Homo sapiens: one gene and its partners. The protein of the gene in region 4 purifies or fractionates together with the protein of the main gene of each other region. This does not show direct contact. Each region holds a gene or a part of one and is shown on either strand. Other genes may lie near its edges. The genes, in order: RAB3B, CLCN7, SULF1, CGAS, RAI14, NMNAT1 and FAM111A.

What was found.
Region 1: the proteins of CGAS (region 4) and RAB3B purify together in Homo sapiens (affinity purification with mass spectrometry, with the first as the bait; one large-scale study listed by BioGRID). This does not show direct contact.
Region 2: the proteins of CGAS (region 4) and CLCN7 purify together in Homo sapiens (affinity purification with mass spectrometry, with the first as the bait; one large-scale study listed by BioGRID). This does not show direct contact.
Region 3: the proteins of CGAS (region 4) and SULF1 purify together in Homo sapiens (affinity purification with mass spectrometry, with the first as the bait; one large-scale study listed by BioGRID). This does not show direct contact.
Region 5: the proteins of CGAS (region 4) and RAI14 purify together in Homo sapiens (affinity purification with mass spectrometry, with the first as the bait; one large-scale study listed by BioGRID). This does not show direct contact.
Region 6: the proteins of CGAS (region 4) and NMNAT1 purify together in Homo sapiens (affinity purification with mass spectrometry, with the first as the bait; one large-scale study listed by BioGRID). This does not show direct contact.
Region 7: the proteins of CGAS (region 4) and FAM111A purify together in Homo sapiens (affinity purification with mass spectrometry, with the first as the bait; one large-scale study listed by BioGRID). This does not show direct contact.

What each region holds. Positions count from the first base shown.
Region 1 is NC_000001.11:51,984,201-51,987,700, reverse strand, and holds part of RAB3B (ras-related protein Rab-3B), read left to right. Parts: intron 1-3,500. UniProt on the Homo sapiens protein: The small GTPases Rab are key regulators of intracellular membrane trafficking, from the formation of transport vesicles to their fusion with membranes.
Region 2 is NC_000016.10:1,461,529-1,465,028, reverse strand, and holds part of CLCN7 (H(+)/Cl(-) exchange transporter 7), read left to right. Parts: intron 1-3,354; coding exon 3,355-3,426; intron 3,427-3,500. UniProt on the Homo sapiens protein: Slowly voltage-gated channel mediating the exchange of chloride ions against protons. Functions as antiporter and contributes to the acidification of the lysosome lumen and may be involved in maintaining lysosomal pH.
Region 3 is NC_000008.11:69,604,347-69,607,846, forward strand, and holds part of SULF1 (extracellular sulfatase Sulf-1 isoform 1 precursor), read left to right. Parts: intron 1-456; coding exon 457-586; intron 587-3,500. UniProt on the Homo sapiens protein: Exhibits arylsulfatase activity and highly specific endoglucosamine-6-sulfatase activity. It can remove sulfate from the C-6 position of glucosamine within specific subregions of intact heparin.
Region 4 is NC_000006.12:73,425,755-73,428,297, reverse strand, and holds part of CGAS (cyclic GMP-AMP synthase), read left to right. Parts: intron 1-2,543. UniProt on the Homo sapiens protein: Nucleotidyltransferase that catalyzes the formation of cyclic GMP-AMP (2',3'-cGAMP) from ATP and GTP and plays a key role in innate immunity.
Region 5 is NC_000005.10:34,662,828-34,666,327, forward strand, and holds part of RAI14 (ankycorbin), read left to right. Parts: intron 1-3,500. UniProt on the Homo sapiens protein: Plays a role in actin regulation at the ectoplasmic specialization, a type of cell junction specific to testis. Important for establishment of sperm polarity and normal spermatid adhesion.
Region 6 is NC_000001.11:9,941,986-9,946,274, reverse strand, and holds the start of NMNAT1 (nicotinamide/nicotinic acid mononucleotide adenylyltransferase 1), read right to left. Parts: upstream 2,801-4,289; 5' UTR 2,760-2,800; exon of another isoform or gene 2,504-2,759; intron 263-2,503; exon of another isoform or gene 1-262. Other genes in the region: protein LZIC, read left to right, coding at 3,540-3,594.
Region 7 is NC_000011.10:59,141,643-59,145,655, forward strand, and holds the start of FAM111A (serine protease FAM111A), read left to right. Parts: upstream 1-1,213; 5' UTR 1,214-1,304; exon of another isoform or gene 1,305-1,327; intron 1,328-1,440; 5' UTR 1,441-1,662; exon of another isoform or gene 1,663-1,854; 5' UTR 1,855-2,053; exon of another isoform or gene 2,054-4,013. UniProt on the Homo sapiens protein: Single-stranded DNA-binding serine protease that mediates the proteolytic cleavage of covalent DNA-protein cross-links (DPCs) during DNA synthesis, thereby playing a key role in maintaining genomic integrity.

The DNA of each region.
Region 1 (3,500 bases), on a different chromosome or scaffold from region 4:
GTATAACCCACATTACCTATAATTTTCCCAACAACACTTGTTTTATGAATGAGGAAACTGTCTTAATCATGTAACATTTCTTGCCAAGGTCTCATAGGTAATAAATGATAGACCTGGAAACTGAATCTAGTTTGTTTGATTTGGAGCTCCAAACTATTTCCACTACACAGGATGACTTGCTAGAAGAAACCATGAAGCACAGAGACAAACAAACAAACAAAATAAGGGGTTAATAAAACACCCTCCCATATACAGGTTTTAATTCTTGCAACAGTTTTGCCAGGAAGCCATTTTATGAGCTCCTTTTATAGATAAGGAAACTGAGGCCAGGGGTGTGATTTGCCTAAGTTTACAGGATCACTGAAAGAGCCAGGGCTTATCTTTCAAATGCCAGGTCTCTTGGACTCAGTCTCATGTTCTTTGCAACAAAAGGTAAGTTCCTTCATTCACTTCTTCACTCCATTTATTGAGCTGATCTCTTCTCGCTGGATTTTAGGGCTCTCTCCTCCTCCTCCCCGCTCTTTCCTGGCTGAAGTTGGCTTCTTCCTTAGGTGCTTATTTCTGCCGCCTATCAGACTGAAAGGGTTGTTTTTCACAGCCACCCTTTGAGGAGTCATTTCTTTCCCCCAGCCTGGGACAGGGACGACTTCCCAGATGGTCCCTGGGCCTTCATCTGTATTGCTTGTCACGGAGATAGCTCTATCATTTTATGTGACTGTCACAAAATAGAGGAAAGATTTGATTGATGCTTATCTTACAAATGCAATTCTGCATGCACCACTGTGCATGACCTGTCTGCTTAGATCTGCCTCAGGCAGCTGCCTGCTGGGATGCTTTTTGCCTGTCTTCCAAATGTCTGAGTAGCCCCTGGCCGCCCCCTCCTAAGAAGATCCCCTTGGGGGCTTCCATCTGAATGAGCCTTCCAACTGAACTCAGCTCTCTGCCTCTCCCCGTTCTCACACCACCTACTGGGAAAGCCATGCTGTGTGTGCATAAGCAGATGTTAACAGTGTGGTATGGCAAGTACAGTACGGTAGCAGGACACTCAGGATGTTGGGTATGCTTCTTTTTTTTAATTTTTATTTTTAGAGATAGGGTCTCACTCTGTCACCCAGGTTGGGATACAGTGGTGCAATCATAGCTCACTCTAACCTCGAACCTCTGGACTCAAGTGATTTTCCAGCCTCAGCCTCCCAAGTACCGAGGACTACAGGTGCACACCACCACATCCGACTAATTTAAACTTTTTTTGGCTGGGCGCGGTGGCTCACGCCTGTAATCCCAGCACTTTGGGAGGCCGAGGCAGGCGGATCACAAGGTCAGGAGACCGAGACCATCCTGGCTAACACGGTGAAACCCCATCTCTAGTAAAAATACAAAAAATTAGCCGGGTATGGTGGCGGGTGTCTGTAGTCCCAGCTACTCGGGAGGCTGAGGCAGGAGAATGGCGTGAACCCGGGAGGCGGAGCTTGCAGTGAGCTGAGATCGCGCCACTGCCCTCCAGCCTGGGCGACAGAGTGAGACTCTGCCTCAAAAAAAAAAAAAAAAAAAAAATTCGTAGAAATGGAATCTCACTATGTTTCCCAGGCTGGTTTTGAACTCCTGGCCTCAAGTGATTTTCCCATTTTGGCATCCCAAAGTGTTGGGATTACAGGCATGAGCCACCATGCCCAGCCAGGATGCTTCTTTATTCACCCTAAAATTGTTGTGGTTTTCGTTTTCCTTAATCCCGTCAAACCTGGAAGCCATTAGGTAACAGAAGTTCCATTCATGACCCTCCAACTGACTTGCTGTGTGAGCTTGGACAAATCACTTGTCTTTGCAGAGCCTCAATTTTTTTTTTTTTTTTTTACCTGTAAGATAAACGGAGGTAGATCAGGAACTGAAACAATTTTTTACTCTTGCCATCACTTCCTAGTCTCCTATCTGTGGCAGTCACAGCTAATAAAGGCAGGCAAATTTCTCACTGATTCTACACGAGGCTACATGTATTTTTCTCAGCACAGTGTATGAAACATACTTATATACGTTCTCTTATTTAAAATTCACAGCACCTCGTGAAGTAAGTATTATTGTCAGATGAGGACACTGAGGCATAGAATTTAAGTAACTAGGCCAAGTTTACACACTGAGTTACTGGGAAAGCTGGGCCCAGTAGCCAGGCTTTTTGTTACAATAAAAAGCTGCTACTCCAAAGTCCCCTCTAATTCTAGCAGTTTAAGAGTGTGAAGCTGGGCTACATCAGAAAAGTGAAAACCAGTAATCTGACATTTACACTGATAGTCTGGCACTTGAAAAATGCTCTATATGTGTTTCTTGAAAGACATAACACCCTCTAAGGATTTACTGTAGGTCTAGCGTTGACCAGATGTAAGGATGGATAAAGCCCCCTTGAATCCAGAAGAGAGAGCAAACAGTTAATTGTAAAACAGGCCCAAATAATGGAGCCACAATCAGGGAGAGGGCAGTTGAACAAGATTTGCCTGCAGAAGTGAATTAAAGGGGCCAGTGAAATAATATGTATTCAGTACCTCCATGGGCCGAGAAACTGTGTCAGATTGTTTACGTATAGTACTACTCTTTCTATTTGTACCAAGCTCTGTGAAGTAGGTGGTATTTTCTCTATTTTAAGGTAAAAGTGCTGTGGCTTAGAGAGGCAATATGACTTACCTAAGAATTCATCTGAGGGTAGAGCATTGATTTTAAACTTTTTCATAACACTGCAGGGTACTAAGTCTAGTCTCGGCTGTTAGCTATGAGATTTGGGCAAATCCTTTTAATTTCTCATTTTCAGTTTCCTTCTTGATCAAATGGAAATAATAATCCACGTCTTTCCAGCTTTATTTCCCAGGTTTATTTAGAGATAAAAGAAGATAAAGGATATGAAATTGTGGTAAAGATCACATTTATGTTTTAGTAGTGACTCTTTGACCAGCAATTCCACTTCAAGGAATCTCTCTCAAGGAAGTAATTAGGAAAATGTACAAAAATTTATGTAAAGAAATGTTCACTGCAGTTTCATGTATAATAATTAAGAGTAGAAAAACAACTTAAAAACAACTTCCTAAAGAGAGTGACAACATTAAATAATTGATCTGGCTGGGCCAACATGGTGAAACCCCATCTCTATTAAAAATACAAAAATTAGCCGGTGTGATGGTGAGCACCTGTAGTCCCAGCTACTTGGGAGGCTGAGGCAGGAGAATCGCTTGAACCCAGGAGTTGGAGGTTGCAGTGAGCCAAGATTGTGCCATTGCACTCCAGCCAGGGTGACAGAGCAAGACTCTGTCTCAAAAAAAAAAAAAAAAAAAAAGAATTGGTCTTATGACACATCTATAGGATGGAATATAATGTAGTCAACTGAAATGATGTTTTTTTAGAGTTTTCAAAGTCTCGTTCATGCTTTTTTTTTTTTTTTTTTTTTTTTTTTTTTTTTTAATTAGAGAGTCTCCACTGTTGCCTGGGCTGGAGTGCAGTGGCACAATCTCCGCTCACTGTAA
Region 2 (3,500 bases), on a different chromosome or scaffold from region 4:
ATGGGCAGCGAGGGGGCTGGACCTGGCTTTGGGACAGGGCAAGGACAGGGATCTTGGGGGGGCAGTGAGGAGCCCCAGGAGAGTGAGAGGGGGCCGGATGCCTCTGACTTCAGAGGGCAGGGGTTTAGATGTTCCCGTGCCAGTGGCTGCCCTGGGAGTCCTGAGCTCAGCGGCAGCGTGCTCGTCTTCCTTCCCCTCGGGGGCATCTCCCGCCGGCCTCGGTTTTTCCCCCAGCCGCTGGTGAGGCCGGGAGTCCTCTGCTGCCGCTGGCCGTTCACTCATCGTCTCTGGGTAGATGTCTGTGCGGGACTCCTGTTGAGATGATCCTGATGTTGGCAACACCCCGGGCGTCCTCCTTCTCCCCATCAGGCCCCACCTGGCTCTGCCCTGGGCCACGTCAGAGGCTGAGGCATCTCACAGTCCACCTGTCCGGGTGCTCTTCGGCCTTGCGTCCGTTTGAGCTCTGCCGCAGTCGCTCCCGAGGCCGGCGCCGTGCTCAGATGCCGTCCTGTACAGCCAGCAGCGCCTCTTCCGGGGCTGCCCTTCTGATACGTTTGTGCTGCCTCTGGAGCCACAAGGCCTTCGGAAGATCTGTTTCGTGGCCGTGGGCGCCTTCGGCACTGCCTTTTTGGACTTCAAAGCCTTTGCTCTGGTGTCAGCTTTGGGAGGGGCAGGAGTTGGGAGAGAAGGGAAAAAGCCAGCACGTGAGATTCAGCAATCAGTCCTCTCCTGTCTCAACCCTGGAGCGGGTGCCTGGCCGGCCACACGCGTGTTGGTTATGCTCATTTTTAAACTGGGTTTGTTGTCTTTATAATTGAGCTGCAGGAGTTCTTTATACATAGATGCAAATCTCTCATCCAATACATGATTTATAGAAGTTTTCTCCCGTTCAGTGGGTTTTCTGTTCACTTTCTCAGTGGTGTCTTTTGTTGCTCAAATTTATTTAATTAAAAAAGTTTTGGCCAAGGGAGGTGATTCGTGCCTGTAATCCTAGTACTTTGGGAAGCAGATGGATTCATTGAGCTCAGGAGTTCAAGATCAGCCTGATCAACATGGTGAAACCCTGTCTCTACAAAAAATATAAATATTAGCTGGGCCTGGTGATAGGCACCAGTAGTCCCAGCTACTTGGGAGGCTGAGGTTGGAGGATCACTTGAGCCCAGGAGGTGGAGGTTTCAGTGAGCTGAGATGGTGCCACTGCACTTCAGCCTGGGTGACAGAGTGAGATCCTGCCTCAAATTTTTTTTTTTTTTTCTGGGCAGGTGTGGTGGTTCACACCTGTAATCCCAACACTTTGGGAAACCAAGGCTGCAGCCCAGGATTTGGAGATCAGCCTAGACAACACAGTGAGACCCTGTCTCTACAAAAAACAAAAACAAAAACGAAAATTAGCCAGGTGTGGTGGTGTGCGCCTGTGGTCCCAGCTACTCAGGACGCTGAGGCAGGTGGATTGATCGAACCCAGGAGGTTGAGGCTGCAGTGAGCCATGATCACACCATTGTACTTCAGCCTGCGTGACAGACGGGACCCTGTCTAAAAAAATTAATTATTACTATTCTTTGAGATGAGGTCTCACTGTGTGGCCCAGGCTGAACTCCATCTCTCAGGCTCAAGCAATCCTCCCGTTTCAGCTTCTTCCTGAGGAGCTGGGACCACAGGTGCATCACACCCCGCACAGGTTGTATTGCTGAGGTTCAGCTAATCTGTTTTTTCTTGTGTTGCTTGTACTTTTGGTGTCAAATCTAAGAAACCATTGCCTCACCCAAGAGTATGACGACTGACCCGTTTTTTCCTAAGAATTTTACAGTTTTAGGTCTTTCATCCCTTTTGAGTTAATTTTTGGATGTGGTGTGAGGTAAGGGTCCAACGTCATACCCTCCCTCTCTCTCTCTCTTTTTTTGAGACAGGGTCTCACTGTCACCCAGGCTGGAGTGCAGTGGTGCAATCATGGTTCACTGCAGCCTCTGCCTCCTGTCTGTCTCCCAAGTAGCTGGGACTCAGGCGCATGTCACCATACTCAGCTAATATTTTGTAGAGATGGAGTCTTACTATGTTGCCCAGGCTGATCACAAACTCCTGGCCTCAAGCAGTCCTTCTGCCTCTGCCTCCCAGAGTGCTGGGATTATAGCTGTCAGCCATTGCGCCCGGCCCAGCTTCATTTTTGCATGTGGAAATCCAGTTGTACCAGCACCATTTGTTGAAAACACTACCTTTCTCTGTTGAAATGTTTTGACACTGTTGTGGGAAATCAATTGATCGTACATGTTTTGGATTTCTTTCTGGACTCTCTCAATTCTCTTCCATTCTTTTGTGGCCATCTTCATGCCAGTACCATGCCTGGTTTTTTTTTTTTTTTTTTTTTTGGCTTTTTTTTAAGAGTTGGGGTCTCACTGTGTTGCCCAGGCTGGGTGGATCACTTGAGGCCAAGAGTTTGAGACCAGCCTGGCCAACATGGTGAAACCCCGTCTCTACTAAAGATACAAAAATTAGCCAGGCGTGGTGGTGCACACCTGTAATCCCAGCTACTTGGGAGGCTGAGGCAGGAGAATGGCTTTAACCTGGAAGGCGGAGGTTGCAGTGAGTTGAGATCGCGTCACTGCACTCTAGCCTGGGCAAAAAGAGTGACTGTATCTCAAAAAAAAAAAAAAAAAAAAAAAAAAAAAGACAGATGAGGGTTTTACTCTGTTGCCCAGGCTGGTCTTGAACTCCTGGCTTCAGTTGATCCTCTTGCCTCTGCCTCCCAGAGTGCTGGGATTACAGGTGTGAGCCACCGCACCCGGCCTCATGGATTGATTTTTGGATGTTAAACTAACTTGTATTCCTAGGCTGAATTCACCTTGCTCCTGGCATTGCTGGAATCACTTTGCTTGTGTCTTACCAAAGATCTTTGCATCCGTGGTTGTAGGGGTGTTGGTCTGTAGTTCTCTTTTTTTTTTTTTTCTTTGAGACGGAGTCTTGCTCTGTCACCCAGGCTGGAGTGCAACGGCGCAATCTCGGCTCACTGCAACCTCTGCATCCCGGGTTCAAGCGATTCTCCTGCCTCAGCCTCCTGAGTAGCTGGGATTACAGGCGCCCACCACCACGCCCAGCTAATTTTTGTATTTTTAGTAGCGACAGGGTTTCATCTTGTTGTCCAGGCTGGTCTCGAACTCCTGACCGCAGCTGGTCCACTTGCCTCGGCCTCCCAAAGTGCTGGGATTGTAGGTGTCAGCCACCGCGCCCCATGTGCAGTTCTCTTGCTGTGTCCTTGTCCTTGGTGTCGGGATGATAATGGCCTCGTGTGTGAGCTGAGAGGGGCCTCTCTCCTTGTGGCCTTGTCAACTGTGCTTCTCTCTTTGCCTTTTTCTGCCACAGGATATGGACCCTCCACATCCCTTCCCCAAGGAGATCCCACACAACGAGAAGCTCCTGTCCCTCAAGTATGAGGTGGGCGTCCTTCTGTCCCCCTGACCCTGAGACCCGGCCTCTGCCCCCTGCCAGCCCACTCCCGGTCCCCTGTG
Region 3 (3,500 bases), on a different chromosome or scaffold from region 4:
TTTTCCTTGTGTGCCTTTCCTAGTTTTAAATAGATAAATGTATGCCATTGTAATTATTTCCATTGTCACTTCTGGGTTTCCCCTTTTGGTTCATTAATACCCATTGCCTTGTTTTTCTCTGTACATAAATTAGGAGAGAGAAAATATTTGTATAATTTTTTTAACAAAAGGAACTTTGAGCATGTAAAATGAAACATGTATGCCCAAATTTTGAAATTAATGCTTTTGGGAAGAACGAATCTTTTCCTGACCTCTCATCTTCATCCTACCCAGTTTGTCATTTTCATAAAGGACCCATCAAATGTTGAACTCCTGTAGACAGAGCTTTAACATCTATTTCTTGCTGTTTAAAGAATGTGGAGTCATGTGACAGGGTAAAAAAAAAAAGGGGGCAGGACTCAGGGACCGTAATTCAGATCACTTCTCATGTACGAAGCTTTTCCCTTTTTGTCGAAGCAAATTTCTACGTAAGAAGGAAGAATCCAGCAAGAATATCCAACAGTCAAATCACTTGCCCAAATATGAACGGGTCAAAGAACTATGCCAGCAGGCCAGGTACCAGACAGCCTGTGAACAACCGGGGCAGGTGAGTGACGCAGGCTTTCTTTACCACCACTCATGTGCTTCTCCATCTCTAATTTAGAAAATTGTCCACATATAAAAGAATGTACATTTGTGTATAAATAAGCTTTTCCTAGTGGCCTTGAGGGCAAGCTCACTGAGACACCTCTCCGCGGACAGAATTACGTAACTGGTTCAGGCTGGGCCTCCCCATTACTACTTGGGCTCCCTCCAGTTAAAAAAGATGATGATCTCAGAGAAAGTTCTATGCCAAAAGACACTGGTTTCCTCTGAGGAGAAGATTCCTGTTATAGTCCCTGTTAACTAGTCACTGAAGAGTTGCCAAAAGGCTACTTAGTCAAAGCACAGGTACGTGCTGAGCCTCTTGGCAGTGAACCACCCCAAGAGACATGATAGGGCCTTCACCCTAGGCTAAAGTCAGAATGTCATCTTACCCCCAGTAGAGGACAGAGCCTGTGACCAAGCTTGAGGAATGAGAAGAGAAACCATATTCTGTTTGTTTATTGTTCCTACTTCTGCTCACAAAGATTCTGGCATCAAATATTTCATTAGAATAGATCCTCTTCGTTAGTAGAAATATTACTATAGACCCCAGAGCTACCCAGAATACCAGTTATTATCAGTAAGAATAAAAGAAATACTGTGTGATGAATTAACATTGCTTTTAAAGAAAGTGAGTACGTATGAATTTAAACCAGTTTAAAACCATTGATTTTAAATGCCCTTGATTGAAATGTATGCTAGCTAAAAGAAAATGCTGTGTCATGACAAGAGGAACTGAACTTTGGCCCAAATCATTGCAGCTGAGAACAAAATCAGAGGAAAGTGAAAAATACTAACACATAGTGAGCATTTGTCTTACATCAGGCACAGTACGCAGGATTTTGTAGCATTTACTCAATTTAATCCTCACAACTGTAGAGTGAGGTGGGCATTGGCATCTCCATTTTACAAATGGGCAGCTGGGATTCAAACAGGAGTTGTCTGATTCAATAACTCAGGCCACTTGCTGCCTTCCAAGGTAAGTTACAATAACCAGGTGAAGAGAAGTTCAAATCTGTGAGTCTTTTTTAACTTAACTGACCTCTAGATATCCACACAATTCACCAACACCAGTTCAAGATGTCAGGCTCATGGAATGAGTAGGTAACAAAGTTATTATTAAAATGGCCTCACTCATTATACGCTTATTATATGGTATCTAGCTTGTTGAATAGACATTCCTAATAAACAACTTGATCCTTATACCCTGCATTTCCTCATGCTTTCTTGTACACAGGATCCCTTTGAAATAGAAGAGGATAGGGAGGGAGAGCTGTTGAAGGAAGGGCTAAAACTAAGCCTTCACTACATTCTAGTACATCTTAATTTTCAAGTGTTTAGTGGAGAAAAGCTGAGACCTATTCATTATATTTTAATTTGAAGTCTTCAAATCTTTCTTATGAAACCTCCAAATATTATTATGAATAAAACCTCAGAATTGTTTTGTAGCTCTAAGATGATTTTTATGAGCTAGCCTCAATAGACTAATTTACTTTTATTCAGGAGTTGCAAATGTTCAGTGTTAAATATATCTCATGCAAATTGGTGATCTTGTTACTCTTTTAGCTCTAAGAGGTGAACATTATAGCCTTTTGGGAATAAGGTACACTGCCTACATTTCAGTGTGTAATTTTACAAACCTCTCCATATGGCTTGCCCTAAAATTTTAATATATGTCCTAAAGGGCAAATGTAGCATAAACCAGATTATGGTACTTTGGCACAAGCTTTTCACTCACGAGCTGAATGCTAACTAAGTTACAAACTTAATTTTGCTTTTTCATATTTTTTGAACTTGTTTTGGCCCCATGAAATGCTTTCATATCTGGAATTTTCTTCCACTGTTTCATTTCGCTGTGAATCAGTCTGAATTTAGATCCATTATGTGGATATATGAGAACGTCAGCAATGGTCTCTTTTAGAAAGGCCTGAATTCGTGGAACAAAGAATTAGGCTATGCCCTGATGGTGATTTCTTTCTATAGAATTTCTTTATATTGGGCCTGAGTGAGCTTTAGAAGTGAAGACCTGGAGAGTATTTCAGATTGTCTCTAGCTTCAGTGTATCCACAGCACTAGTGAATTGTTACTCTAATCCCGAACCAGCAGGATCAGCATCCCTGAGAGTTTGTCAGAAATGCAAATTCTCTGGCTATTGCAGACCTTCTGAATCAGAACCCCTAGGGGTGAAGCCCAGCAATCTGTGTGTTAACAAGTCCTCCAGGTGACTCTGATGCTCCCTAAAGTTTGAGAAGCACTATTCTAACCCACGATTGTGTTTACTGGTGGCCCTCAAACCATAGCTTAGGAATCTAAGAACTTCAAGAAAATTTTGAGCCTTAATCTTTAAAGCAGTTATTGAATCTGTGGGTCAAACCTGATAGCTGTGTTGTGTGTTGTTGTTTTGTTTTCTTTGGGACAGGGTTTTACTCTGTCACCCAGGCTGGAGTGCAGTGGCGTGATCATGGCCCACTGCAGCCTCGCCCTCCTGGGCTCAGGTTATCCTCCTACCTCAGCCTCCTGAGTAGCTAGGACTACAGGCACACACCACCATGCTCGACTAATTTTTGTGCTTTTTTAGAGATGGGGTTTTGCCATGTTGCCCAGGCTGATCTGGAACTCCAGGACTCAAGTGATCCACCCACCTTGACCTCCCAAAGTGCTGGGATTACAGGAGCGAGCCTCCATGCCCAGGCAGCTCTGTTGTGTTCTATCGACTTTTTATATCTTGGCCTTTTGCTCTTTCTTTCTGGCTACTTTGAAGATTATCTGTTTTTGGCGACAGTATCCCTGACTTTAAAAAAGGAAGAAGAAAATTCAGAATAATGACACTGAATTGTTCAGGTTCGAGGTGGCAGCGGAGGCTAGAACTGACCTGC
Region 4 (2,543 bases):
AGTTGGGTTGTGTTGACGGCTAGGGATTGATTGGCCAAACTGAAAACAACACTAAGTGAGTAATTTTTTTTTTTGAGACAGACTTTCACTCTGTCACCCAGACTGGAGTGCAGTGGCACAATTACGGCTCACCACAGCCTCGATCTCCTGGGCTCAAGCAATCATCCTACCTCAGCCCCCCAAGTAGCTGAGATTACAGGTGCATGCCACCATGCTCGGCTAATTTAAAAAAAAATTTTGTAGAGGGCCTGTTGGCTCACACCTGTAATCCCAGCCTAGCAACATGGTGAGACCCCACCTCCATAAAAAATTTAAAAATTAGCCAGGCATGGTGACTGGTGCCTGTGGTCCCAGCTACTTGGAAGGCTGAGGTAGGAGAATGGCTCGAGCCCAGAAAATCAAGGCTGCAGTGAGCCATGATCGTGCCACTGCACTGCAACCTGGGTGACATAGTGACACCCTGTCTCAAAAAAAATTTTTTTTATTGGTAGAGATGGTGGTCTCCCTTTGTTGCCCAGGCAGGCTGGTCACCAACTCCTGGGTTCAAGTAAACTTCCCGCCTTGGCCTCCCAAAGTCTTGGAAGTACGGGGATGAGACACTGCACCCCACCATTTTTTTTTGTGATGGCATACACACCATAAAGAACTAAGATTGAAAAGGAATTGTTCATTTGAGTTTCTAAAGTTGGCCAGTATTGGCCAGGCATGGTGGCTCAAGGCCTGCAATCCCAGCACTTTGGGAGGCCAGGGCAGGTGGATCACCTGAGGTCAGGAATTCGAGACCAGCCTGGCCTACGTGGCGAAACCCCGTCTCTACTAAAAATACAAAAATTAGCTGGGCGCAGTGGCACGTGCCTGTAATCCCCGCTACTCAGGAGGCTGAGGCAAGAGAATCACCTGAACCCGGGAGACAGAGGTTGCAATAAGCTGAGATCATGCCACTGCACTCCAGCCTGGGCAACAGAGCAAGACTCCATCTTAAATAAATAAATAAATAAATAAATAAATAAATAAATAAAGTAAGTTGGCCAGTATAAAGATCACAAAAGTTAAAAAGTCAAAACAAAAATGCCCAACATGCAGGCACAGAGGTTCTTTAAGATCTCATATGCAGGCTTTGAAGTAAGCATTAAGAAAACTATATTGTTGGCCAGGCACAGTGGCTCACGCCTGTAATCCCAGCACTTTGGGAGGCCGAGGCAGGTAGATCACCTGAGGTCAGGAGTTCGAGACCAGCCTGGCCAACGTTATGAAACCCCGTCTCTACAAAAATGCAAAAATTAGCCGGGCGAGGTGGCATGCACCTGTAATCCCAGCTACTTAGGAGGTTGAGGCAGGAGAATCGCTTGAACCCAGTAGGCAGAGGTTGCGGTGAGCTGAGATCACACCACTGCACTCCAGCCTGGGCAACAGAGCGAGACTCCATCTCAAAAAAAAAGGAAAAAGAAAAAAAAAAAGAAATATTGTTGATAAGGCTAAATAGTTTCATAAATAGTACATTTTGTCAACTACTAAATAACTAGATGAGATGGCAGATTATCTATGGTACTCTTAATAATGTAAATAATTCTGTGATACAATCAGTGGATTTTAGAAAAGAAAAAATTTATATTAAATTTGCAGTTCAATAAAGTAAAATAATTTTATAACAAAACAAGATTTTGGATCGCTTGAGGGGGGTGAGGGGAGGGTCAGAGGTTGCAGTGAGCCGAGATTGTATCACTGCATCCCAGCCTGGGTGACAGAGTGAGACCCTGTCTCAAAAAAAAAAAAAATAGTATAAATATCTGTTAGCTTTATACAGTTGAAGAAATTCATAGAATATATTTAAGCTAAGAATGGGAAAGAGAGGGAAAAAATGTGTTTTTGAAACTTCAAACCATATATTTGAAAACATAATCAGATTTTAGTGTGACTGTTGTATTTATTTTATTTTATTTTATTTTATCATTTCATTTCATTTCATTTATTTCATTTTATTTTATTATTTTATTTTATTTTATTTTATTTTATTTTGAGATGGAGTCTCACTTGTTGCCCAGGCTGGAGTGCAGTGGCATGATCTTGGCTCACTGCAACCTCTGCCTCCTGGGTTCAAGTGATTCTCCTGCCTCAGCCTCCCGAGTAGCTGGGATTATAGGTGCACGCCACCACACCTGGCTAATTTTTGTATTTTTAGTAGAGATGGGGTTTCAGCATACTGGCCAGGCTGATCTCGAACTCTTGACCTCGTGATCCGCCTGCCTAGGCCTCCCAAAGTGCTGGGATTACAGGCATGAGCCACCGCGCCCGGCTTTTTTGTTTTTGTTTTTGTTTTCTGTGTGTGACAGAGTTTCGTTCTTGTTGCCCAGGCTGGAGTGCAATGACGCGATCTTGGCTCACTGCAACCTCCGCCTCCTGGCTTCAAGCGATTCTCGTGCCTCAGCCTGCAGAGTAGCTGGGATTACAGGCGTGCGCCACCACGCCCAGCTAATTTTGTATTTTTAGTAGAGACGGGGTTTCACCATATTAGTCAGGCTGGACTCAAACTCTTGATCTTAGGT
Region 5 (3,500 bases), on a different chromosome or scaffold from region 4:
AATCAATTCTCCTGCCTCAGCCTCCTGAGTAGCTGGGACTGCAGGTACATGCCACCATGCCCGGCTGATTTTTGTATTTTTAGTAGAGATGGGGTTTCATGTTGGCCATGGCTGGCCAGGCTGGTCTCGAACTCCTGACCTCAAGTGATCCACCTGCCTTGGCCTCCCAAAGTGCTGGGATTACAGGTGTGAGCCACCATGCCCAGTTTAAAGATATTTCTTCCCTTTGTAGTTAGTCATGAGCTGAAAAGTACAGGTGGTTCAACAAAAGATAAAAATTGTTCATCAAATGTCAATTTTCTAGCTCCAGCCATCTACAATGAACAAAAAAATTAGCCTCGTCTTTGACATCAGGCCCACTGAGAGATATCAGCAAATCTAATCAGTATTTTAAAAAGTAACTTTTGGCCAGGCATGGTGGTTCACACCTGTAATTCTAGCACTTTGAGAAGCTGAGGCAGGAAGATCACTTAAGCCCAGGAGTTAAGAGACCAGCTTGGGAAACATGGCGAAACTTTGTCTCTAAAAAAATACAAAAATTAGTTGGGCATGGTGGTGCATTCCTGTAGTCCCAGCTACTCAGGAGGCTGAGGTGGGAGGATCACCTCAACCCATGAGATCGAGGGTTGCAGTGAGCCAAAATCTTACCACTACACTCCAGCATGGGCAACAGAGTGAGACCCTGTCTAAAAAAATAAATAAATACAAATAAAAAGTAACTTTACTGACTTAACCATGTGTTTAAAAACAAAGCAGTACCTTCTTCTGTTTAACTGAAGGAAGCATGCCTTGTTCTTCAATTTTATATTCTATGTGTCCAGTAGAGTATCTGCCACACAGTAGGAGATTAACATCTCTCAACTACTCCTGCCTCAGAGGTCATTAAGCCCCTCATGGCGGTCATCAGATATAGAGTTGTCCTAGTCTAGAGGAGAATTAAACAATAATCAAAAGGCAGAAATCAGCAACAAAGTGCGAAGTCGAAGTTCAGAAGATGTGAAAGAAACACTTTTCCTCCTTATCCACTCTTTGCGGAAGTTTGTGCATTGTGTCTTGATTGATTCACCAGCTGGGTTTTTGTGATCAGTGTCACCTCATCTAACCTTACTTGCGATCTAGGCCAGTCCCTTCTGTAGTGAATGGCATTCACTGGAAATTAGTCTTGCCGTATAATTCCATGACCATATGTCACACCGGGGCAAGGGGACACCTTTGGGAAGTTCTTCATGATTTGCTAATCCCTGCTTCTAAATAAGCAGAATCTAGTTGTGAGAAAAGGTGGTTGTAGTCCAAGAAGCTTACTGTACAGTGGAAGGAAATACATGGGCTCTTTTTTTTTCTTTCCTTATTTATTTATTTATTTTCTTAAATTGACATTTAGGCCAGGCACAGTGGCTGCTGCCTGTAATCCAAGCCCTTTGAGAGGCTGAGGAGGGCAGACCACTTGAGCTCAGGAGTTCAAGACCAGTCTGGGCAACATGGCACAAAACCCCATATCTACTTTAAAAAAAAAAAGTATATTTATATTGCAGTGAGCCAAGATCACACCACTGCACTCCAGCCTGGGTGACAGCGAGACACTGTCTCAAAAAAAAAAAAAAAAGGAAAGAAAAAAATTGACATTTAGTGAACACCAAAGCTTATTATCAAGGAACCAGTTTCCCTTACACTTATTTATTATATTACCTTTTAAAGCTCAACTTAATTTTTCATATCCATTTTAGGTATTGTTATCGATAAGATATTCTGTTTTCTTATGATCTAGATAAGTTCAATTTGCTTAATTAATTTATTTATTAAATTTTTTATTTCCATGGGTTATTGGGGAACTGGGTGTTTGGTTACATGAGTAAGTTCTTTAGTGGTGATTTGTGAGATTTTGGTGTACCCATCACCTGAGCAGTATACGCTGCATCCTATTTGTAGTCTTTTATCCCTCACTCCCTTCCCACCCTTTCCTCCTGAGTCCCCAAAGTCCATTTTGTCATTCTTATGCCTTTGCATCCTCATAGCTTAGCTCCTACTTATGGGTAGGAATGTACGATGTTTGGCTTTCCATTCCTGAGTTACTTCACTTAGAATAATAATCTCCAATCTCATCCAGGTCACTGTGAATGCTATTAGTTCACTCCTTTTTATGGCTAAGTAGTATCCATCATATATATATATATATGTGTATATATATATATATGTGTATATATATATGTATATATATGTGTATATATATGTGTATATATATGTGTATATATATGTGTATATATATGTGTATATATATGTGTATATATATGTGTATATATGTATGTGTATATATATACACATATATATGTGTGTGTATATATATATATACACACATATATATATGTATATATATACACACACCACAGTTTCTTTATCCACTCATTGATTGATGGGTATTTGGGTTGGTTCCACGTTTTTGCAATCAGTTTGCTTAATTTAGCTGTTCTTTTCAAAGAGATAATAACTCTAAAACTAACAAGCAGCATCTACCTCTTTTCACTTTCACTAAGTCTGTCCAGTTCCTTTTGCTGGCTGAAGTGATAGACACTCAGAAAACAGGCAGTGTTAACTGATGGAGAATAAAAGGCCAGAGAAGCCTCCTTTTGCACTAGGGCAGCACAGAGTAAAGTGTTTTCCATTTTTTTTTCTTTTTTTTTTTTTTTCTCTAAGAGGAATCCATTTGCAAACCAGAGAAAACCATCCAGCAGTGATTCTTAAATATTCGTGAGGCATAGATGGACACTTGCAAATCTGATGGGGGTTTTGGACCATTCTTCCTTGGAGAAACTGATGTATGTACAATGATGCTATAAATTCATAATTTTTATCAGTCTCATGAGTTTCATGGAACTCCTTGCCCTAAGGCCATTTATAAACCTCCTTGGAATACCCAGGTTAAGAACCCACAATGACCACCTCTCAAAGTTTGAGAATACAATTACAAGGGCTCTATTTTTCTATCATGTGCCGCTATTCCCCACCCCACTGCCACCCACAGTTCGAAAACCTATCATACATGAGTGAAAAGTAATAATTGTGGGTTTTATACTCTCAATTTGAAAACTAGTCATCGGTTGCTATGTCAACCAGTCAACATACTATTGACCATTTTTAGGATCTATTTCTATTGGATGTAATAAAATGCAATTTATATGCAATGAAAAGGTGGTTTTGTAATATGACTATTTCACAGAGACCTGATGAATTCTAAGGATGAGTCTTAAGTTTCTCACCCCAAGGAGTTGGGTCTGTTCTGTCTTCAGCTTTTGGTGGCAGCAGTTTCCCAGTTTTGCTGTTAACAGGAAGGAATGGAGATGTCCCAGGCCCCACCTGACAATTCTTGTAGTCTCACAGGAGATGTCCTGCGCCCCACTTGACAATACTCCTAGGCTCACAGTAGGTGTCCCAGGCAACCCCTGACAGTACTCCTAGGCTCACAGATGTCCCGGCCCCCCGACAGTACTCCTAGTCTCACAGTAGGT
Region 6 (4,289 bases), on a different chromosome or scaffold from region 4:
TCAGAATGCATTTCTCTTATGCATTAGAAATGTTTTCATTATCCATTAACTCTAAACAAGAACCTAAAGGCATATAAAAAAACCCTTAGCATAGAACTGCTGAATGACTAAGTCACAGAGAAGAAAAGGCAAATACCTCCACTGCTTCGAAGACTGCACACGCTAAAACTACACAAATGCCAGAACAGAACATTGGATTATCATTATCAAAATTAGGGGAAGGCTGGGTGGGGTGGCTCATGCCTGTAATTCCGGCACTTTGCGGGGCCAAGGTGGGAGGATTACTTGAGCCCAGGAGTTTGAAACCAGCCTGGGCAACATGACAAAACCTCATCTCTACAAAAAATACAAAAACTAGCCGGATGTGGTGGCATGCACCTGAAGTCCCAGCTACTAGGGAGGCTGAGGTGCAAGGATCACTTGAGCCTGAGAGATTAAGGCTGCAGTGAGCCGTGCTCGTGTCACTGTACTCCAGTCTGGGTGACAGGGCAAACAAAAACAAAAATTAAAAAATCAGGGAAAGTACACTGTGAACAAATGTTTATTCAGCAAATTTTTCAAATTATTATTATTATTTTTTTGAGACCGAGTCTCACCCTGTAGCCCAGGCTGAAGAGCACGATCTCGGCTCACTGCAACCTCCGCCTGCCGGGTTCAAGCAATTCTCCTGCCTCAGCCTCCCGAGTAGCTGGAACTACAGGCATACGCCACCATGCACAGCTAATTTTTTGTATTTTTAGTAGAGACAGGGTTTCACCATAGGGGCCAGGCTGGTCTCAAACTCCTGACCTCGTGATCCGCCCACCTCGGCTTCCCAAAGTCCTGGGATTACAGGTGTGAGCCACTACACCCAGCTCAAATAATTTTTTTAAAGTATATTTTCCAGTTTTGTTTTGTATGGCACTGACTCTGTCACTGTGAATTCCATTTTACCCAAAACATTGACACTTCCACACATATTTATGAATCAAAATTGAAAGATAATTGCATTAATAGGTACTTTTATTTTTTTCTTCTTTTGTTTTGTTTTGTTTTGTTTTTTTAAGACGGAGTTGCTCTGTCACCCAGGCTGCAGTGCAGCGTCGTGATCTTGGCTCACTGCAGCATTCACCTCCTGAGTTCAAGCGATTCTCATGCCTCAGCCTCCTGAGTAGCTAAGATTACAGGCATGGACCACCACGCCTGGTTAATTTTTGTATTTTTAGTAGAGATGGGGTTTCACCATGTTGGCCGGGCTGGTTTTGAATTCCTGACCTTAAGTGATCTGCCCGCCTTGGCCTCCCAAAGTGCTGGGATTACAGGCATGAGCCACTGCACCCGGCCGACTTTTGCAAAGGAAATTCTTTGAATCTGAAGTGTCTTGCAAGGTAGAGGCTATTGCAACCATTTCAACTAGTGTGTCAACAGTCTTCTCTAAGGTGGGCTAGAAAAATGGTTTCATATTCAAATTGTAACTCTGAAAAACAACTGATGGTAATAAAGAGATTCCATAATCAGACAGAACTAAGTGAAACAATTAGTTTTGGTAGAGTTCTGTGGTAATCATAGTTAGAAGTTTATCCTGGGTAGCTGAAATATAACTAACTTCAGACTCCAGGCCTGTCGGTGGCTTGTGCCAATCACCACAACACTTTGAGGGGCCAAGGCCAGAGGATCGCTTGAGCCCAGGAGTTCAAGGCTGCAGTGAGCTATGATCACACCACTGCACTCCAGCCTGGGCAACACAGCTCTTGTTTTTTAACAAGACATTGTTACTTAAAAAAAAACTGCCCTGATGAAACAATTCTACCATGAACACTGATGTTGTTCTGTGGACTACTTCAGGAAGATGGACTAAGAACATCATTAAATAGTTCCAACCAGTTTCTGGGTAATTTTATTTTTAATTTTTTGTTATGAGGGTCTTGCTATGTTGCCCAGCCTGGGCTCAAATGATCCTCCCACCGCGGGCTCTCAAAGTGCTGGGTTTACAGGTGTCACACCGCGACAGCCAAGGGTAACTTTTTTTTATTTTTATTTTTGAGATGGAGTCTCGAACTGTCGCCCCGGCTGGAGTGCAATGGCGCGATCTCGGCTCACTGTAACCTCCGCCTCCAGGATTCAAGCGATTCTCCTGCCTCAGCCTCCCGAGTAGCTGAGATTACAGGCGCCCACCACCACGCCCAGCTAATTTTTTGTATTTTTAGTAGAGACGGGGTTTCACTATGTTGGCCAGGCTGGTCTCGAACTCCTGACCTCGTGATCCGCCTGCCTCGGCCTCCCAAAGTGCTGGGATTACAGGCGTGAGCCACCGCGCCCGTCCAAGGGTAACTTTTTAAGAGCTGCCCTACAGCTCATTACCTCCTTCTCAAGGAGCATGAGTGTCAAACCACCTCCAGCAAAGTAGATGTAGTCTTTTACAGATTTGGAAAGAAGGATTTAGGAGGAAAGGGAAGTCGTTCGGAATGAAGGATTTCCTCCTCTGACGCCCAGCCGTCCCCCGTTAAGCCTAAAGGTGCCAGACCTCAAGACTCTTCTAGAAAGAGATTTTTCCTTTCCAAGGTGAATCCATCTGTTCCGAAGGTCAGAAGCTATTTTACCGAAGTTTTCCGTTCCACTGAAAAAATTAAGGGTCAATCAAAGCTCCTTGCCCCAAACCTGAATATGAGCTTGCCTCGGGTCATATTCGACTCTAAAGACTCCACCACACCATCCTGGACTCCCCTATATCTAGGACAAAAAGCGACCAGTTTCTCAGGGGCTCCTTGCGGGGAGCTTACCGCGCCCTCACTGTCCGCCGGCCCGAGTGCTACCGGAGATCACCAGCGGCCCGGACGCCAGCGAGTGGAACATCTCGGTCGCACTCTCATTGGTTCCAGGGGGCCGGAAGTGCGTGCGTCCAGCGGAAGTGCTCCCCCGGCGCGGTCCGCCAGGCCAGTGCCCTCAGGTAGGCGGGGCCCCTGGCCCTAAACTCTGGGACTGGCGGGCGGTCAGGCGGCACAGGGGGAATCCCGGGGGCCTAAGGAGGTTGTCCCAGTTTTTGTCAGGTAGGCCCGGAAGGAGTTTCGGGGACCATGGGTTTACGGCTACCTCTGGTGGCAATTGGGGCCTGTTGGAGCCCGGCCGCCGCGGGACCTACGTGCCGGACTTCAAGTTCCCGCGTGGGGTGGGATTTGCTGCGGTGGCCGGAGCTGATTCTTCACCCAGTCCTGTTGGTTCTGGGCCAAACCCTCCTCACTTTCAAGGAAGAGGCGTGCTCTCCGCCCTTACCTTTTCCAAGCCTCTGGGTTTGACGCCATCCCTCAAGGCGTGTCCGGATGCGGGATTTTCCTCAAAGACCCTCTCGGCCTCGCTAGGAAGAAACTCAGAAAGGCTGCGGTAGGCGCAGTCGAGGGGGAAAGTGCCCCCGCCCTTGATGTCTCAGGCTGCTCAAGTGGAAGTTATCTGGACTGCCTTAGGGCAAGTTTATATATAGCAAATAAAATTACTTGTTAATGGTTTCCTTTTTTCCAGCATCTCCACCCCGAGGTGGTTTGAACTTTGAGCCTTTTGTAGTCCTGATGAATAATTTCATTTTCCTCAAGTTTATGACACTCGGAACGTCAAGAACTGGAGGTTTGTGCAATTTGAGACCGGTCGGCACTGTGCAGAGATCAGAGTACTAAGAGACAGGTGAGCATGAATGAGGACCCTCCGCTCCAGATATAGTGTCTGAGAGCGGTTTCTGTAGTTTCGTAAAAGTGAAAAGTGCACCACATTTAGTGACTACTAGGTGGTGCCAACGAGTTAATCTTTCGGGGATAAATCTCAACTAATGTAGTACCAGGTTAAGGCTTTTAAAATGCACCCATTTTTACTGAAATGTATTCAGAATAGCTTTAGCTCCTTAAAATATGTTGAGCCTTTATATACGTGACCAAATTATCGACGTTCTATTCTGTATTAGGTACTGAGAAAGCTGAGAGAGGAATCAGACTCATATTCTGTTCTCCAGAGTTTAGTCAGAGGAGATAACGTATTATAATAAAATCATATATAATTAAAGGCAGAAATAAGTGCTAAATAGAGAATAAGATTTGAGCTGGGCGCGGTGACTCACGCCTGTAATCCCATCACTTTGGGAGACTGAGGCAAGTGGATCACCAGAGGTCAGGAGTTCAAGACTCGCCTGGACAACATGGTGAAACCCCATCTCTACTAAAAATACAAAAATTAGCCAGATGTGGTGACGCATGCCTGTAGTCCCAGCTACTGGAGAGGCTGAGGCAGGAGAATTGCTTGAACCCAGGAGGCTGAGGTTGCAGTGAGCC
Region 7 (4,013 bases), on a different chromosome or scaffold from region 4:
TGTTAAGCCTATTGTCCTTTAATCACTATTTGCTTACACATTAAAATGTAAAACAGGCAAAAGAGAAAGAAGGAAGAAAGGAGGGAGGGAGGGAAGGAGAAAAGTGAGAAAGAAAGAAAGATAAAAGAAAAAAGAAAGAAGAAAGAAAGAAAGAGAAGAAATAAAGAGAAAAAAGAAAGGAAGAAAGGAAGGAAGGAATGAAGAAGAAAAGAAAAAAGAGAAAGAAAGAAGGAAAGAAAAAGAAAAAAAGAAAGAGAAAGAAAGAAAGAAAGAGAAAGAAAGAAAGAGAGAGAGAGAGAGAAAGAGAGAGAAAAGAAAATTTTCTCCAGATTAGAATTATTGGCTGCTATTGTTTGGATGCTGGGTACTAGCTGTGATTACCCTTTGTGAATGTAGGAATGCACAGATTCCAAAAGTGAGTCTCATAGAAAAAGTCAGCATTCAAATATGTTTTAAGGTTACTCTATCCAAACCCCAAAGAACCCACAGAAGATGAAGCAGTAATTTTAGCTTCTCTTGGTGTATTGTACATGCATTTAAGGCCAGTTCCTTCCTTCAAATTCCCATGTGTTTTGTAGTTACCAACACACCTTTCAACCCTATCTGTTTATATACATCATATAGTCCTCTGTCAATTGCATAAAAGTTGTCCCCTTTGTGACTGTAATCGCCTTTTCCAATACACATCTACTCAGAATGCAGGTCCTTAAACAGCAGGCTGCCTTGAAAACCCTCTCCAATCTTCTTCGATCATCAGCTTTGAGATGCATATTCCTAGAGCCCATATCATCTTCTTCATCACTATCATAAACGTCTCCACATATTGATGAACGTTTGGAGAATCGATTTATGACAAGGGAGTTTACTCTTCCTGCATCCGCGGCTTCTTCGTGATTTTGTCCTAGTCACCGGGCCTATCCCACCTGCTGGGGATGCCGCCCCCTCGGAAGTGCCTGAAATCTCCCCACTTACCCAACTAGCCTCAGCGCCTCCTGTGTGCTGCAGCAGATGGCGCGCTGCAGACCCCAGCCTGGTGCCTCCGCGACTCCTCCCCAACCATGATTTACAGGCGGGGACAGCCACATTCCTGCGCCCCAACTTCCACCTCCGCTTCCTGCGCGCGCGAGACTCAAGCTGCCACAGTGGCTCTGCCGCCAGCGTCCCAGCTCCTCCCACACCCGAGTTTTTATTTCCTGCTCCCTCTCCAGCCCGGCCCAGGCCAGCCTACCGGCGACTAGGATGCTTTCGCTTTCGCTCTCGCTTTCCAATACTCGGGACTGGGGAAACCGGGAGAATAGAAGCAGGCAAGGACCGCCGTGGGCACGGGGTCAGTGAGACAGGGTCCTGCTCGCGGCGTCAAGGAGGAGCGCTGTGGGTGGGTAGGGTAGGCGCGCCCCCTCGGCCTTGCCTTTCCAACCACTCTTTTTTGCACGCCAACAGGTGTCCCCAGCGCAGCCAATCGGCTTCCGAAGTAGGTGAGTTGCTGCCTGAAGAGAAAAGACAAACTCCAGTATCTTTCATTCCATTGGCCAGACGCGCCATTCCCCAAGTGAGTTCTGTTCTCCAACCAAAGTGCTGGATTCCAAGGGACTGGAAGGGAAAGTCCCTAAAAATCACGAGTTCAGGCGTCTGAGACTTGGTGGGAACGGACCTTCCTCTTAGGTGAGTTACTCTTTGGTTCTGGGGCTGACCTGGAGTTTTGCCAGGATTCATTGGCCGCAGCAGGATGCTGGTGGGGACAGGGTAAATAAAATCTGCACTCCTGCGGGCTTTTATTGTTGAAAGGGGCACTGACGCTCTCCCTGGAAACTTAAAAAGAACAGCCAAGTGAACGGATGTGTCTTTCTTTTGCAGTGCCCAAGCCTGTTCTAATTTTTAAAAACTGATGTCTATTAAGACCCAATGTTAACTTTATGAAAATGGTTCCTAAGGAGATTCACATCTCTGTGTCCGAATTCTGTGTGCAGCAAACATCATCTCAAGTGCGTTTTCCCAACTACGCTTCTTTCCAGGATAAAATACTCTAAGTGACAAATGTTGAGTACATTATCAGGTATGTTCACTATTGTGAGAACTGAAGCCATCTACACTCACATAGCTTGCCAACTACATTAACCTGACTTCTTATTCCATTATTTTCATCAACATACATTTACTATTTCAAGAAACTTTTGCCAGGGACCGGAAAGTTGCAAATATCTTTATTGCTTAATCCAGTATCTTCTTCAAAGATCCAACCACTCTTCAATGGAAAACATCAAAGAACAGTTTACATTCTAAGACTTTGAACCTTTACCTCAAAATCCTAGCCTTGTTTTATCTACCAATCCTAAACTTTTACCCGTAGCTGACTCAATTCTAACCAATTCCCCTCATTAAATATTAGACTTACAATGGGACTTCAAAATCTCAATACATATAGCCCAAACTTGCTCTTCCCTCTCTGAGACACCACTTAAATTCTGTCAAGTTATTGTTCTCCATTACCTAAGTGAGCAAGAAACTTAGCTTTGTCTTATCAACAGGTTGCTTTGATATTACTGGGAGCCAACATTTGACATTCTTGGAGGCTCCAGCAAGACCTAATCAACCTCCCAACCCTCAACTCAGAATCAGTGTGTGCCCTGAAGTCCCTTCAACCTTCTTGAGGCTCTCCCTGATCTCAAAGGTGGAGAAAGTAGATCTTGCATCAGGTTGAACTCCAGTTTCTTTTTGCTCAGTTTTTCAAGCGCTGAGTTTATTTTGTCCCTAGGCATAAAGAAATCTTTCTAGGAACCCCTTTGGTTATGGGACCAGATTTTTAAAAGCTTTTTAGGCTTGGTGAAAAATCTGCCTTATCACTAGCAACACTACGACTTGTCTCTGTTCTTGTTTTTTGTTGTACTCGTGTAAAAGAAAAGTTCAAGGGAAGAGAACAGGCTCAAGTCTACTTCTCACGCTGGCTCTGGGGATTAGGAAATTCAGAAAGTTTTGTTTCAGACTGGCAGTGCTGTCTGATATAAACACAGCGTCAAGTACTGCACGCTGTAGCTACCTGAGGTTTAGGCCGGAAGAGGCACGGCTGATTTAAAAGTGAAAGAAAGTAACCAATTGGTTCGCAGACAACCTTTTCCCAAAAGGCGGGCGATTCAAACCCCTAGCCCCACCTGCTCCGTTTCCCGCCCAGCTGGAGCTCTGGAGCCTTTGCTTCCTCAAATACGAGCGGGAACTGCGTTGAGCGCTGGATTCCAGGCCGAGTGCTGGCGAGGCGCGCAGTGAGTGAGCACACAGGGCGCTGGGGTGCTCCGCGGGGCGCGGTCACGGGCGCGGCCGCGGCGGGCTCGAGTCCCGGCTGGGAGGAGAAGGAGCTGGGTGTCAGGAAGCCGGGGACTGACAGCGCCACCCATCTGGGGAGCCGGGAGGACACAGGTTTTATTTTGGTAGTGCTGCAAGTCCCCTTGTGTGCTGGGGGGAGCGGGGCGGCGTGGTAGGATTGGAAGAGGCTTAGAGTTGGCCTCGACCCCTGCCCTTGCCCCTGGAAAGGCAGAAAGTGGGGGTTGGGGTGCGGAGAAGCAGGAAGAGAGGGAGAGTGAAGGAGGGGAGGAAAGGGAGAGAGGAAGAGGGAGAGTGAAGGAGGGGAGGAAAGGGAGAGAGGCAGAGAGGGGGAAGGAGAGAGGGAAGGAAGGAGAGATTGAGAGACAGAGAAATTCCTAAGGGGAGCTGTCAGGTGGGCTGGACATGGGCCCCAGGCTGCACTGCTTTATCCCTTTGCTGTAGGAAGTCAAGCAAGTTCTTTAGGTAAGTAGAACCTTGATGTCAAGTATAAAACAGGGGTTGGTATAGGATAGCTAAGAGCACTTTATATTTTGATATAATCTGATTTATCCTGGATACTGAAAACAATGTAGGGAGACGGAGGATATTGGAGTGTTTTCTTAACCTCTTGCCCCTTTCCACTGTGATTGCTCAAGTACATGCAAAATTAATGTTTCTTTCTGCCCATTTTATTTTCCTTTTTTTGTCTGTGTCTATTA